2 separate regions of the Homo sapiens genome follow, and region 1 is linked to region 2. Evidence: fine-mapped expression QTL. A gene starts in region 2. The other region holds a variant in brackets. All regions are shown on one strand. Distances are between the middles of the regions.

What was found.
Region 1: its variant is fine-mapped to the expression of OR2B6 in whole blood (TOPMed, PIP above 0.99).

The regions. Positions count from the first base shown.
Region 1 is chr6:27,810,659-27,819,002 of GRCh38, reverse strand. It overlaps H2AC14 (H2A clustered histone 14), which reads left to right and starts at 4,226. Exons shown (of 1, transcript NM_021066.3): 1 at 4,226-4,701. The coding sequence starts at 4,263. The coding sequence ends at 4,649. H2BC14 (H2B clustered histone 14) reads right to left here and starts at 3,981. Exons shown (of 1, transcript NM_003521.3): 1 at 3,514-3,981. The coding sequence starts at 3,959. The coding sequence ends at 3,579. RefSeq lists enhancers at 3,323-3,372, 3,463-3,522, 3,633-3,752, 4,443-4,592, 7,943-8,344. The variant C/T (reference allele first, on the strand shown) is at 4,254.
Region 2 is chr6:27,952,584-27,960,927 of GRCh38, reverse strand. OR2B6 (olfactory receptor family 2 subfamily B member 6) reads right to left here and starts at 3,687. Exons shown (of 1, transcript NM_012367.1): 1 at 2,746-3,687. The coding sequence starts at 3,687. The coding sequence ends at 2,746.

The sequences.
Region 1 (8,344 bases), 140 kb after region 2:
ACCCAACCATGACCATGAACCTCCAAGTCATAGCTTGAATGTACCCATTGCATTGAACGGCCTCTACTTTTTTCCCAAAAGCCCAAATGCCTCTGTGCTATTTCTGTCTCATTTAAATTTAAGCTTCTTGGCCAGGTGCAGTGGCTCACGCCTGTAATCCTAGCAGTTTGGGAAGTCGAGGCAGGCAGATCACTTGAGGTCAGGAGTTTGAAACCAGGCTGGTCAACATGGTGAAACCCTGTCTCTACTAAAAATACAAAAAAAATTAGCTGGGTATGGTGGCAGGCACCTGTAATCTCAGCTACTCGGGAAGCTGAGGCAAGAGAATTGCTTGAACCCAGGAGGCGGAGGTTGCAGTGAGCCAAGATCATACCACTGCACTCCAGCCTGGGCAACACAGCAAGACTTTGTCTCAAAAATTAATTAATTAATTAATTAAAGCTTTTTTTTTGTTTTTATATCCATTTTTTTTATTTCCTTCATAAAGATGTACATTATATTACATTGACACATTATATTCACCTTATTTTGTAGGGTCACCATTGACCTAGGCACTATAGGGGGAAAAAAAATGAAACCCAGTCTGCACTCCACATGACTTGTAAAAACAAGATATAGTCATCAACACCTCCAATATTGGCTTACACAATAGGCTATAACAGTGGGTTAGAGTTCTCCAAGTGCATGGGGAAAGTAAAATCAATTAGTGTATGGGTAAAACAACTCAATAAAGAACTTTTAAATATTGTTTTGCTAAGTATTCTGTGACCAAAATGTGAATTTTATCTCTTCTAAAATGACTGTACATACATATAAAGATTGTGTCGACCCCAAAATTCTGTTTTGTTCTATTAAAAATTAAAAATAGGGGCAGGGCACAGTGGCTCACACCTGTAATTCCAACATTTTGGAAGGCCAAGGCAGGAGGATCACTTGAGCACAGAAGTTTGAGAACAGCCTAGGCAACATGGTGAAACACTGTCTCCACCAAAAAAGATACAAAGATTAGCCCAGGGTGGTGGCCTGTGCCTGTAGTCCCAGCAACCCAGGAGGCTGAGGTGGGAGGATTGTTTGAGCTTGGGGAAGCCAAGGTGCAGTGAGCCATGATTGTGCCACTGCACTCCAGCCTGGGCAACAGAGTGAGACCTTGTCTCAAAAATAATAATCATAAACAATTTTGCCAAGATTTCTGGATAGTATTTTCCTAATTTTTTTTTTTCTTTTAGATGTAGTCTTGCTCTGTCACCAGGCTGGAGTGCGGTGGTGTGATCTCAGCGCACTGCAACCTCTGCCTCCTGGATTCAAGCAATTCTCCTGCCTCAGCCTCCCAAGAAGCTGGGATTACAGGCGCATACCACCACACCCTGGTAATCTTTGTATTTTTGTAGAGATGAGGTTTCACCATGTTAGCCAGGATAGTCTCAAACTTCTCACCTCAAGTAATCTGCCTGCCTTGGCCTCCCAAATTTCTGGGATTACAGGCATGAGCCACCGCACTCAGCCTAATTTTTTAAAAAAATCTTTTGAGCTTTAATTTGTTTCTAACATGATACTCCTGTATCAAGAATAGATGCTTCATCTAATGAGATTGTATTGTTCGGGCTCAGAAACCGATTCCCCAAAATATGGAGCTTTGACATACTGAACTGAAGAAGAGTACTCAAGGTCTTTCGGACCTTCCCCCTATTCCTCTCTCTCATTTCTCTATCTGAAAGCAGAGAATGAAGTTGTTCTCTGAAATTCCCTTATCTCTCTAAAGTATAGACCTGCCAAAGAAGAAAACAATTACCTCTGGTCTCTTCTCTGAGTTTTCATTAACTGAAAACTCATATCGCAAGAAGACTGAAGTCTGTCAACACACGGAGACAAACCTTTGCCACAAATCATTGTCTGGTCTGTGGGCCAAACAGACTTTGTCCTAGGCTGTTATGTTATTCAAGCCTATTGAATTCCCCTAAAAATCACTTAATACCCCTGTAAAATCATCCACACTTCCCCAACTCCCTTTTCCCTGAGAAGAAGGGTATGTAATCATCTGTATTCTATTGCATGGGGCGTGGGGGGGAGGGGGAGGGAGTAATCACTGATTCTCCCCCATGCACATTAATAAATTTGTATGCCTTTTCTCCTATTAATCTGCCTTTTGTGAGTTGACTTTTCACCAAACCTTCAGAGGACAAAGGGGAAGTTTTCCTTTGGATTCTACAGTTTCAATAGACAACCAAAAGTTAAAGTTAAAGTTGGGAATTATTTAAATATGCTTCACTCTTTGAATGTATTATTCTTACTTAATCTATTAACATGTATATGTCTTTGCTAACGTTTTGATAATTTATTGAATGGAATCCTAAATTGGAAATTCCTAGCATAAATCACACATATGTTAGAAAGTATTTTTCAGGTTGGGTTTCTTTAAAGAAGTGTGAGGATTCAAAGGCTCTGGAAAAGCAATCTCAGTGCAGATGCCTTTTGAATCCTTCCAGGTATCTGAGTTTTCTCACAATTTTAAAAATTGATTTAAACATAACTAGAATATTTCTGGCAATTTAACTGTAACACATCTACAGAACACTCACTAGGTATTCACAGTGATATTAAGAGCAATTATTTTTTCCAGTTCATTTTCTTTGATTTACCTGATTTTTTTTGAGACAGAGTCTTGCTCTGTTGCCCAGGTTAGTGCAGTGGCGCGATCACGACTCGGTTCACTGCAACCTCTGCCTCCCGGGTTCAAGCGATTCTCCTGCCTCAGCCTCCCGAGAAGCTGGTGTTACAGGCACGTGCCACTGCACCCGTTTAATTTTTTGTATTTTTAGTACAGACGGGGTTTCACCACGTTGGCCAGGCTAGTCTCAAACTCCTGATCTCAAGTGATCCGCCCGCCTCTGACTCCCAGAGTGCTGGGATTACAGGCGTGAGCCACCACGCCTGGACTAACCCTCCACATATTTATTTATGACTTTACCTATAACTTCTGCTTCCCTAAAATGTACAAAACAGTTGCATTCTGACTGCCTCAGAACCACTTTCTCATGGTCTCGGGGGATTGTGTCTTCCCTAAGCCACGGTCACTCATAGTTGCTAATAATCCTCTTTAAAATATTTTGGGCCGGGCGCAGTGGCTCACACCTGTGATCCCAACACTGGGAGGCCGAGGCAAGTGGACCACCTAAGGTCAGGAGTTCGATACCAGTCTGGCCAACGTGGTGAAACCCCGTATCTACTAAAAATACAAAAAGTAGCAGGGCCTGGTGCCACATGCCTGTGGTCCCACCTACTCGAGAGGCTGAGGCAGAAGAATCGCTTGAACCCGGAAGGTGGAGATTGCAGTGAACCGAGATCGTGCCATTGCACTCCAGGGTGGGCAACAAAGTGAGACTACACCTCAAAAACAACAACAAAAAACAAAAAAAAACCCACATATACAAGTACATTTATATGTACGAAGCGAGTCCCAAAGGGTACCTAATGGGAGACAAACTTAACAGTGAACTGGCTCTTTCTTGAGAAACGTGGACGGCTCTGAAAAGAGCCTTTGGGGTGTGGGTCACGGCGGAACTGTTACTGCAGCGAGAGGCTCACTTGGAGCTGGTATACTTGGTGACGGCCTTGGTGCCCTCGGACACGGCGTGCTTGGCCAATTCCCCGGGTAGCAGTAGGCGCACGGCCGTCTGGATCTCCCTCGAAGTGATGGTCGAGCGCTTGTTGTAATGCGCCAGGCGTGACGCTTCTCCGGCGATACGCTCAAAGATGTCGTTGACGAAGGAGTTCATGATTCCCATAGCCTTGGAAGAGATGCCGGTGTCGGGGTGGACCTGCTTCAGCACCTTGTACACATACACAGAGTAGCTCTCCTTGCGGCTGCGTTTGCGCTTCTTTCCATCCTTCTTCTGAGCCTTGTTAATGGCCTTCTTGGAGCCTTTTTTAGGGACTGGAGCAGATTTGACTGGTTCAGGCATGGTGGAAAACAAAATAAAAGACAACCTTAGGGCTGTTTCGTCCTCTTTATTTAAATGTTATTATGCAAATTAGGAGTAGAATAGGTCAGTGCTGATTGGTGATTATCCGTGGATGACGTCAGATGCCAGTTTTGCCCAATCAAAATAGGTATCCTGCATACTCGAGTCCTATTGGTCTAAATAAAAATAAAACGTAAGCCAATCGCACAGCTTCCTTTTCGCGCCCAGTAGAGGCTATAAAATGTACGTTTTTCCAATTTCATTTCAGTCTTTCTTGACCGTAAAGGTAATAGA[C/T]CTTTTGCCATGTCTGGGCGTGGTAAGCAGGGAGGCAAAGCTCGCGCCAAGGCCAAGACCCGCTCTTCTCGGGCCGGGCTTCAGTTTCCCGTAGGCCGAGTGCATCGCCTGCTCCGCAAAGGCAACTATGCGGAGCGGGTCGGTGCTGGAGCGCCGGTGTACCTGGCGGCGGTGCTGGAGTACCTGACCGCCGAGATCCTGGAGCTGGCTGGCAACGCGGCCCGCGACAACAAGAAGACTCGCATCATCCCGCGTCACCTCCAGCTGGCCATCCGCAACGATGAGGAGCTCAACAAGCTTCTGGGCAAAGTCACCATCGCACAGGGTGGCGTCCTGCCCAACATCCAGGCCGTGCTGCTGCCAAAGAAAACTGAGAGCCACCACAAGACTAAGTAAAGACCGAGTTGAAAAGCGCATAAAAACAAAGGCTCTTTTCAGAGCCACTTCAACAATCATAAAAAGATGACACGAGTCCGTTTTCAGCTGCTTCACCACTACACAGTACACTCATGATGTTTCGGTGTTAATCTTTAACCTGTTTACATTGCCTGAATTTCAAGGTTTTTTTTTTTTTTTTTTTTCTTAATGTAGATACTAACAAGGTACGTTTGCTAACACGTGTTTTCAGGGGTTTTACCTTGGTGGCCAGGCTGGTCTCTGACTCGACCTCAGGTAATCCACCCGCCTAGGCCTCCCAAAGTGCTGGGATTACAGGCGTGAGCCACTGCGCCAGGCCAGTTTGTGGTATCTTGAAGGCATTTTACTGGGACACAACTTTGACAAAAGTCAAAGCCTCTTACTGGGAGTTACATAGTAGGTACTGGTGGGTTTTATTTATGATTCTGGGAAACTCACTGGGCTGTAAGGAATATAGTATAGTATTCGGTTTTTAATATGCTTACTAGAAAAAGTATATGGATTGCTACTAGACAGTGTGTTTCTCTACAGTTTCACAGTCTCTAGATTGAAAACTGAGGGTAGAGTCCTCAGCCCTATTTCCTGGCCTCTAGGAAAGGAGCTGCTCAATGGGTATATTTAAACAAAACCAGACAGTTTTATGTTTACCAATGTATACATTGGTCATGTTTTGTTTTCTATTTTTAATTTTTGCACTTACAAGAGTTTGGAATAAAAAAAAATTGGCCTTAGAAGTTTTCTAATTAAGGGTCTTTCAAACATATACATGTTCGGCAGTGACCCAATAATTACATGTATTTATGTTAGTGTACTGCTGAAATCACATGTTAATAATAGTTAACTTCATTGTATGTGTTCTGATATTTTTCTGTTTAATTCTGTATGTAATTAACCTTTTTGTACCTGGGTGTTATGTTACAAATGTATCCTGTAAACACTTACAATTAGTAAGTGAGTTAAATACTTAGTAACTGCTGGATAAGTAGATGGCCAAGCATAGTAGTCCAAGCTGGTGATGTTCGATGGTAAGGTTGGTTCTGAATACTTATTGATTCCAAGAGCACTAGTGGGTGAATACCTACACTCAGAAAAAAATATCTCTTCTGAGAAAAGCCAAAGGCTATTTTGAGAATAGTGAGGTCAGTTCCTCATGTTATCTTTTTTTTTTTTTTTTTTTTTTTTTGAGACAGGGTCTCGCTTTGTCACCCAGGCTGGAGGACAGTGGTACGATCTCGGCTCATTGCAACCTCCAACTTCTGGACACAAGCGATTCTCCCAACGCAGCCTCCTGAGTATCTGGGACCACAGGCACACGCCACCACGTTTGGCTAATTTTATTTTTTGGAGAGATGGGGTTTCGCCACATTGCCCAGGCTGGTTTCCAACTCCTGGACTCAAGCGATCCACCTGCCTCGGCCTCCCAAAGTGCTTGGATTACAGGCATGAGCCACCGCGCCCGGCCTGTTGTCCATATTTCTGTATGGGCATATCAAGGTCCTTTTATTTTGGGCCTTGAAAAGGATTGTTATGCCACTTATGAGTTTTGCCATCTCAGGAAATTCAGACACAAGAATTATGTCCTTTTTTTTAAATTTATTTATTTTTTGTTTGTTTTGTGTTTTTGAGATGGAATCTCCCTCTGTTGCCCAGGCTGAACTGCAGTGGCGTGATCTCGGCTCACAGCAACCTCCACCTCCCGAGTTCAAGCGATTCTCCTGCCTCAGCCACCAGAGTAGCTGGGACTACAGGCACATGCCACCACACCTGGCTAAATTTTTTGTATTTTTAGTAAAGACGGGGTTTTACCATGTTGGTCAGGCTGGTCATGAACTCCTGACAAATGAGCTGAGTTGGATGGTTACCAGACTATTGTAATTCAGTACATGGAGTGTTTTGAAAAGACATAGAGTATTCATTTCCACATAACTAGAACTACTCACTGTCCCTTAAATAAATAATTCCTCATGTAATTATAACTGGAAATTTAACTGGGAGTATCTTGGCTGCATATCTCCAGGAGAGGATGCCCTACCCAGCCAGCAAGAGTATTGATTAGTACATACCAGGCAGTCTCTGTGTGAGCCCTTCCTGATTTATTACTAGCTCTTAGTTTCCCAGCACAGAAAGAAGGAATGCACTATTTACACACTCAACAATATCCATCGGTTTAGCAGTTGGGCCCCTAAGTGTCCTAGAGGCACTGCTTCCCTCCAAAATAGTGTATCTTCCTTTCCAGAAGAAAGCTAATTTCTGAGAGGGGAAAAACTCTATTTTGTTTTGCTTACGGTGTTGATTCCAATTAAAAGTATTAAAGCATTATTTTAATTTGTAAAATATTAATCATAAATTATTTATCTTTCTAAATTCCATATATGTGGAAATAATGAAATCATGAACCCACACACAAGAAAATGAGGATGAGCAGATTGTGAATGTTGCAGTAGTGATCTTGATATCAAATTTCCAAAAAAGTGTATTAAGAATGTAACCAATTCTAATAACTGAAGATACATAAATAGCCAACTGAAACAAGATAGAGAATTAAAACTGCTTTTTAAAACTCAGTGTAAAAATACTATGATCTTTCCACTTACATCCTTCACAGGTTAAGCTAAGGAGAGACAGAGATGATAACACACATACACAAGCCAATTTGCCAGGGAAAATCTTGAATACTTATAAGAATGCTAGAGAGCTCACAGAAGAAGTTATAGAAATCTAGCATTCTGAATACAAGAATGGATGAGGTAAGGGCTTTCCTGGCCCACAAGAAGCTGATTTGAGCATATCTACCAAGCTGATGTATTTCTTTCATTTGAGATTTTCCATGTGGGTATGTCTCCTTACTATTATATACCCATGCATTCATTCATTTATCCAACAAATACTGATCAAAAGCTCCTACGTTACTGGAGATATGCGAGTAAACAAAAGTTCCTCCTCTCATGAGCCTGTATTTTAGAACACACAAGCAATACATCAGCAAACTCTGGTACAGCATATAGTGACAAATTCTAGGGTGAAAAAAATAGGTGGGGATTATACAGATTTTATTTAGTCATACAAAGCCTCATTGAGAAAGTAACATTTAAGCAAAGACTCAAGTATTTTATCCTGTGCTCAAAAAAACTACCACAGGCTTACCTACAAGGCAGTCTTATTTTGAATACTCCTGACAGTTCAGAGTTTTAGCCACTGTCAGCAGAAGTCAGAGAAAACACTTTCTCTCCCACACGTATTTTTACATGGGGCTTCAAAGGGAATGTTCTCTGGCGGGCTTTCTCCAGAAGACTTTTAAACCTCAAACCATCTGTCATTAACTACATTTAAGTGGTTTAAGCAGGCCCAAAATCCGGCTTGAAAAAATTCAAAGAAAACTTAACACTGCTTAGGAACGGGGGGCGGGGAGAGAACGTTTCACTTTAGCCAGCATGAGCTACATTAACCTGAATTTTTCCAACTTCAGTACAACCTTAGTTTTATTTCTGGCGTGTTGGCAAGAAATATACACACACCACAGTACAGGTTAGCAGAAAATTAGAAGCACCATCCGGTCAAAACCGGGCTGCGGAGATGGGAGAGCAATACACGAAGGAACTTTTGGCTACACTCAATGCTTACGGAAAAATGCCGGACATTATTAGATGTTAAGACTCCCAAAATTAGCATTCAAA
Region 2 (8,344 bases):
ATATGTCCTTATTTCTATCTTTATAAGAGTCACTGCCAATCTTATAATTTCTACTATTACATAGAATATAACATGTAGTAAAAGCTTTTGCATTGATGTTCAATTTTATTTTTTATTTTTTTAGAGATGGGTCTTGTTATATTACCCAGGCTGGCCTTGACTCTTGGGCTCCAGTGATTCTCCTGCCTCAGCCTCCAAAATATGATGTTGTTTTATTCCCTAGATTTAGTTTACCATTGGTGGTTGGACCCGATTGCTCTTATATTTGAATATTTATGTCCTAATACAATAAAACCTCTCTTCTTGAGTAATTTCCATTAATCAACTTTTGAGTGAGCATATAGAAATAGATATGAACAAATAGAATTCTACTATTTTCTGGTTATTCTCTATGTCATAAAATAGATATCACAAAACACTTTATAAAAATTAACTTTATTAAAATGAGCTATGTGGAGAAATTATAGCCCTTGTGGACAGTTGGTGAGAATGAAAAATGATGCCACCATTACAGAAAACAGTATAGCAGTTTGTCAAAAAATTAAAAGTAGAATTACTGTATGATCTAGCAATTCCACTTTTGGGTATATACCCTAAATAACTGAAAGCAGGAATTCAGACAGATATTTATACACCGATATTCATGGCAGCATTATTCAACATAGCCAAAAGGTGAAAGCAACTCAAGTACCTATCAACTGATGAATAGATAAACCAAATGTGGTATATACATACAATAGAATATTATTCAGTCTTAAAAAGGGAAGAAATTCTGACACATGCTACAACATGGATGAACCTTAAAGACATTATGCTAAGTGAAATAACCCACAAAGCAAAAACACTCTATGATTTCATTCATATGAGGTATCTAGAGTATTCAAAATCATAGATGGAAAATAGAATAGTGGTTACCAGAGGCTGGTGGGGACAGAATATGGAATATGGGTAGTTATTGTTTAATGGGTACAGAGTTTTAGTTTCAGGAGATGAAAAAATTCTGGAGATTGACGCTCAATGTGAATGCACTTAATGCCACTGGCTGTACACTTAAAAATGGTTAAACTAGCAAATTTTATGTATATTTTACTACAAGTATAAAAAAAATCCAAAATACATTCTCCTTAAAATACAAACCACTTAAAAACTTAAAAGTGGTTTGTATTAGAAAAATAAATTTCTCAGAATTGCAAAAAAGGAGAGATAGTTTAATATGTCTTGTTCTATATGAATAATTAATATATTTTTTATATTCTCAAGGTAACTGATAATAGCTTAGTTACAGAAGTTACCAGTATAAAATTATACACCAGCACACCAATATAAATACTAGTTAAAAACCAAATCTACAATTATAAAATTAATTAAATCAATTAACCTCTCAATTTAAAAATTAACTATTTCAATTTCTGGAATTCTGTTTTCTCTTCTATGTCCTCATAATTCACCAAACTACACTGACATTGGCTTTGAGATACACATTTGTCTCCAGTAATCTGATCTGTCATTTATTTGGACCTTTAGCAATGAATTAATTTTCAGTGAGAAAATTATTGTCTTAAGCTTTAAATATACTTTATCAGTATTTTGCTTCCATGTATGTTTTTTATGATAATTATCCCTATTAGGAGAGAAAACTGAAGTCAGAACTTGGCAAACCAGATTTATTTCTCTGTTAACATTTTATTATGGCAAAAGTACATGGAGTTACTGTAGGTTTTCATAAGAAACATGATAAATATATTTTAAGCTATTGTATTTTCTACATGTATAATGCATTAGTAGAAGAAAACAATGGATAAAGAAGGGTAGCAAGGTTGTTAAATTATTATAATGTAAATGAATCACTCAACAATCAAAAGAATCAACTAATAATGTAAATGCATGCTACTTCCTCAGCACTATGATGACTTCTAAAGGTGTTGTGGTAAAATGTATGGTATAGTTTTTGTACCCTCAAGAATAAAATATAATTAGACTATTATTATGCAAGACAAAAGTACTAAACAAGAACTCTTTGGAAATCATTACATAATGTGCTATTTTGGAATCTAAGCTGTTAAGTGCTTTAGGGTTTAAGAGAACGGTAGATAATATTGATAGTTGGGAGAATTATGAAAAAAAATTCATGTAAAAGAAAATTAGCTGGACCTAATAAATATCTAGGGTTTGATTTGCAAAGGAAGTAAAAAGAATGCCTTCATTTAGTAGGAAAAACATGAGTACAGAAATATGGTAAGAAAATGGAAAATCTGGTTACAATTTTAGAATAAAAATTATTATAGATTTCCTTATGCTGATGCGGGAGTGGAAAATTTAAAATTAGAATTGTTAACCTCAGATCCAAATTTGAAGTGGTGGGGTTTGAGAGTTTCAGTGAGCCTCGTTTAACTAGTGTGTGTGTGTGTGTGTGTGTGTGTGTGTGTGTGTGATATTGGAGAAAGAACTTCTGGCTTTTCTACGGATCTAATTTACATTGAATTGTACAAGCATTGATGGGATGTTTGACAAACCTTGAAGATGTTGTGATTACAATTTTTGGTGAATTGGAAGGTCAATTCTGGGGGCTTGTTCAATGAAAACATTAAGGCAACAGAAGTAAATATAGCTCTTCATCAAGGAAATTTTATTTGAGGGAGTTTACATTGTTCTCTACAGTAACAACAAAAATAGGGCAACTTACAGAGAAGTTAGTAAGCTAAGTAAACATTTTGTCTTTAGCAAAGCTTATCATTTGCATATTTCTTATTTCTTGATTAAGAAGACTCTTGCAACCAACCTTTTAAAGCCTTCCTTTACCTCCTTGTTCCTAAGTGTATATATAAGGGGATTCAGCATGGGTGCAATGATTCCATAGAAGAGAGAAACCATCTTTCCTTGGTCCTTGGAGCTGGGCGAAGGTGGTTGCAGGTACACAGAGACGGCTGTACTATAAAAAAGAGACACCACAATTAGATGGGAACCACATGTCCCAAATGCTTTTTGTCGACCTTCAGCAGACTGTATCCTCAATACTGCTCGGACAATAAAAGCATATGATATAAGGATGAGTGTCAGGGGTATTAGATGGAAGAGCTCACTGACAAGGAATAGTTCAGCCTCATTTGCTGTTGTCTCAACACAAGATAACTTGAGCAGTGCAGGGACTTCACAGAGAAAGTGATCTATCACATAGGGGTCACAGAGTGGCAGCTGGAGAGTCAGGGTAGACAACCACACTGAGTTACTAAAACCAGTAACCCAGGATGCAGCTGCCAACTGGAGGCAGAGTCTCTGGTGCATGATAACTGAGTAATGGAGAGGCCGACAAATAGCTACAAACCTATCAAAGGACATGACGGCCAGGAGAAGATATTCAGTAGCCCCCAAGGCCAGAAATATGAAAAGCTGGGCTACACAGCCACGATAACTGATTACTTTCCTGATGCTGCATAAATTTACTAGCATTTGTGGGACTGTACATGTGGTGTAACAAAGATCCAGGAGTGATAGATTGGTAAGAAAAAAATACATGGGGGTATGAAGTTTGGTGTCCAGGCGTGACACTAGAATAATGGTCAGATTGCCAAAGATGGTCACAGTGTAAGAAATCAAGAAGACCACAAGGAGTGGAAACTCCAGCCAAGGTCGATCTGAGAAACCCAGCAGAATAAACTCCTGTATGATGCTGTCATTTACCCAATTCATGATTAATGTTTCAACTCTTGGTTTCCTGAAACAGAAAAATTCAGGAAGTCAATTAACACATATTTGTTAACTATTTCAGTTACTTATAGTCATTTTACTACCTGTTTGAAGATATTTACAGAATTGATATTGCTTGTTTTATTACATGAAAAATATACAGTTGAAAATGCTCATAATTACCAAAGTATTTCTAAAATTTAATCTTTCTATATCTGTATCATCACTGCAAAAGTGAAAGCTAAAATGTAAAAAGTAGATTCCTGATTTTAAACAACTTTCACAAAATTTCTTCTTTGATTTTTTGTCATTTGGTTAATTTTTGTAATACTGTCCACATAGATAGCTATTATTAGATTCGGTCATAATCTCTAACACATTTTTTTCACTCTAATTTCTCAATGTTAAGGAAACTGCCTTGTCATCTGAAACAAACAATTTGTTAGTTTCTTAAATTTTTTTTTATTTCAATAGGTTTTTGGGGAACAGGAGGTGTTTGGTTACATGAATAAGTTCTCTAGTGGTGATTTCTGAGATTTTGGTGCACCCACCACCTGAGCAGTGAACACTGTACCCAATGTGTAGTCTTTTATCCTTCAGCTCCCTCCTTCCCTTTCCCCCCAGTCCCCAAAGTCCATTGTGTCATTCCTCATAGCTTAGTTCCCACTTATGAATGGGAACATACGATGTGAAACAATTAAAATTATTTAGACCGCCTCAAAAACTATGCATATAGGCTGTAGCAAGCTATTAGACACATCTCAGGGAAACATCTTTTGCCTTCTAAGACCTTATCAAATTAGAATAAAAAGATATTAGTAGCATGGAATTTGGAGGCAGACAAGTCTGGGTCCATGTCCCTACTACATAAGTCATTAGTTACATCCTCCTGGGAATGTTTCTTACTCTTTGTGAGCTTCAAGCTCCTCACCTATAAAATGAGTATAATAATACCTTCCTGGGATAGTGGTACAAAGTGTAGACAAAAGGAACTGTAGTCATCTTCTGATGCTCAGAGAAAAATTATGTATGATTTTCAGAACTTTAAATGTCCTGGGGTTGCCAATAAAAAATGACTCTGTGAGGTAATATTTATCTTGTTCTCTCCACAACTCCAATACCATCAACTTTAACAACAGAGATAATAATAACTATCTGATGTGAAGTATAAATGTGATCTTTAATGTAAATTACCTGGTATAATGGCACACAGCAATGTGAATGAAAGTATCATATGACACAGGAACTCTGAGACATTCGGGGCAGAGGCTGTTCAGAGCCCTAAATTTGCTAAGTACTAATATAAGTCAATGCTACCAGTTAAAAATTTCCAAATCATCTATCTTGCTACCACCACCCTCTATTGTTTTATTATAATTTTGTTAGTGTAAAAATGTCAATTTAAGGATAGGATCATAAATTTTAAACTATTATTCAATATGTATTTCAATTTTGCTCACTTATTCTACAGTTCTCAGTATAAAATGGCAGGGAAAGCTTTTATAGCCTCTCAAATGAGTCCCTGCATATTATTGACAGCTGCATATTATTGACATGCTATGCAGCTGTCAATAAAATTAGGAATGTGGTATAGATATAAATTCAGATATAGATATACATGTACAAAAACATTCAAATCCTTAAGGAAAAAAACAAGTTTCTGAACATGTATTTAGCATGCTTCCATGTGTTTACATAAGGGAATATAATCATATTGGTCAGTATTCATATATGTATAAAATTACCTGGAAGTATACAGAAGTGTTAAAAGCTGTTACTTCTGGGGAATGGAAATGGAAAGAGGGAGAAAAATCAGATTTTGATATTTAACTTTATCCTTGCTTTTTCTAATTTTTAACAAATATAATGCTTTTTATTATTAATAAAGATTATTATGTATTATATAATAACTTTAAGTGAGGACATATTCATACTGTATGTTTTACTATAAAGACAAGCATTGCTTTAGACTTTATAACTGAAACAATCTTATATGAATTTAGACTTTTATCTCAACAAATTTTTAAAACAGGATCTACATTAATCTACATGGACATTTTCTAAAGACTGGAATGCAAGGGCATTGGGCATTCGGCATCTTATTGACAAAAAAAAATCAAAAAGAGTTGCCACTCATTATAGGAATTCTGAAAAGCAGAACAAATGGAATCCATAAAAAGAGATTTCACAAGTTCACAATTTCCTTGAATTAACAAGTGTTGGAAAATACCCTCAGTCTATATAATTAGGGTCACTGCATATCTCAGTTTGCACAGGACTGCGAGTTTACTCCTGCTGTTCTGACACAATTACTAATAGAACCCTTCAGTCTTCAAAAGAGTTCATGTTTGGGTGATAAGTTATAAGGTCTCTCTAGCTGTAATATTGGAGACTAAAATAATTTTCAAATTATTGTTCAAGAGATACCTCATCACTGAGGACACTGCATATGCTTTCTCCTTACTTGGGCCAGTGGCTTTCCCTGACCAGCCCTGTATCTGGCATTTCTCTGCTAGAATACAGCCAAAAACAAACTCTCCAAGAAGCCCTGACTAATGAAAATTCTAGAAGGGAGGAATTCAATTAACTTCTACTCTTTCTCACTGAGGTTCAGCAATTACAAAAGTATTAAATGCACTTCTGTTATAGGTAATGTCCATGATCCACAGCAGTGAGGGAAATTTTGCCCCAAATTTCTCCTGCATGAGAACAAAAGTACTGGGGAGACTGTAGTACAACTCATTCTTATATTCTGCTTTGCTAACTTTTGGGGCAAAATTTCCCCATCTTTCAAATATCCAGTAACCTCTTTACATATCCACTCTAAAAGAGAGAACTTTTGTTAAAAAGTTGAAAAATTGTCTGGGTGTGGTGGCTCACGCCTGTAATCCCAGCATTTTGGAAGGCTGAAGTGGGTGGATCACCTGAGGTCAGGAGTTCAAGACCAGCCTGGCCAACATGGTGAAACCCCTTCACTACTAAAAATACAAAAATTAGCTGGGCATGGTAGCACACACCTATAATCCCAGCTACTCAGGAGGCTGAGGCATGAGAATCACTTGAACCTGAGAGATGGAGGTTGCAGTGAGCTGAGATAGTGCCACTGCACTCCAGCCTGGGCAACAGAGTGAGACTCCATCTCAAAAAAAAAAAAAAAAGTTGAAATATTATCTTGCACACAGAAGTTTCAAGTAATTTGAATTGTTATTCTTATCACTATCATTGGATTGGAAGGACTTGTTAACAATGGAAACAAGTAGGAATCTTGTATCTCTGAAATCCTCGCAGATAGCATAACCAATTATTTACCTGATTACACCTGTGCTGATGGTGGTGCCCAGTCATGGCTGAGATCGCAAAAGGCTACACAATCTATTTCTCTGGTCCTGAATAGAATTCTGTTTACAGCATCTTCAGAGGATATCATTCTCATTTTGAGTTAACGAGCTTTCCTTTGGTCAACATAGGAACATATTTTCATAATGTGAGACAAAAGGGATCAGATTGCATAGCAACTATCTTACAACTGCAGGTAAGAAAAAGTGAGTATTGGGCCAGGCACAGTGGCTCCTGCCTGTAATCCCAGCGGGAAGCTGGGGCTGATTGCTTGAGTCTGGGAATTCCCAGCATTTTTGGGAAGCTGAGGCAGATCGCTTGAGTCCAGTCCAGCCTGGGCAACATGGCAAAACCCTGTCTCTACCAAAAATACAAAATTAGCTGAGTGTGGTGGCATGCGCCTGTAGTTTCAGCTACTCAGGAGGCTGATGTGGGAGGATTGTTTGAGCCCAGGAGGTTGAGGCTGCAGTGAGACATGATCGCACCACTGCACTCCAGCCTGGGCAACAGAGACCCTGTCTCAAAACAAAACATAACAAACAAAGCAAAAACAAAATTGAGTACTGTAAAAAGCAACAGTTGAAAAGGGTTATTTGGACCTTTAGAACTTTTATCTATACATAACTCAGGATATTTCAATTTTATTGTCTGAATAAATACAATCACCACCCGTTTGCTTGTATATTAGTTGGGATTGCATCCATCAGCTACATACTGAAGTTATTCAGTATATGGCTGACAGAGGATTCTGAATGACGAGGTTCAACAAAGTCCTGAAAACTTTATTTTAAGCTGTTTACTATGCAGTGAGCATTGAGATAAGAAATATGACAACAGCTGTAGTTTAGATGCTGCTACTAAGTCACTTCACTACTGGGCAAGTTACTCAATGGCTTTGGGAAGCAGTTTAATCTATGGTAACACCAGAGTTTTCTGTTTTCCATTCGACATAAAAATTGTTTGCTTCTAAGTTTTCTATAATTATCATACCTCTGAGAATGTATAAAAAGCTTTAAATATACTACAGTGAACCCCCATGTTCCTGCTGGAGTATAAGGATAAATACTAGGAGTAATTTTTCACACAACAGTGCAATTTGGCTTAGAATAGATGAAAAGTTTGCCAATATTTTTTGTCTGTTTCACAAAAGGTTAATTATTCAGGTAGAAATCTGAATTTAGAGGTTCAGAGAGATTATTTTCATAGGCTAGATTATTTTCATAGGCAGACAGAAGGTTCAAATCTAAGACTGCTCTGCTCTCAAGTTTTAATTTCCAGTAGAGATAACAAAACATTGCAAATAGCAGTATAAAACAAATAAATG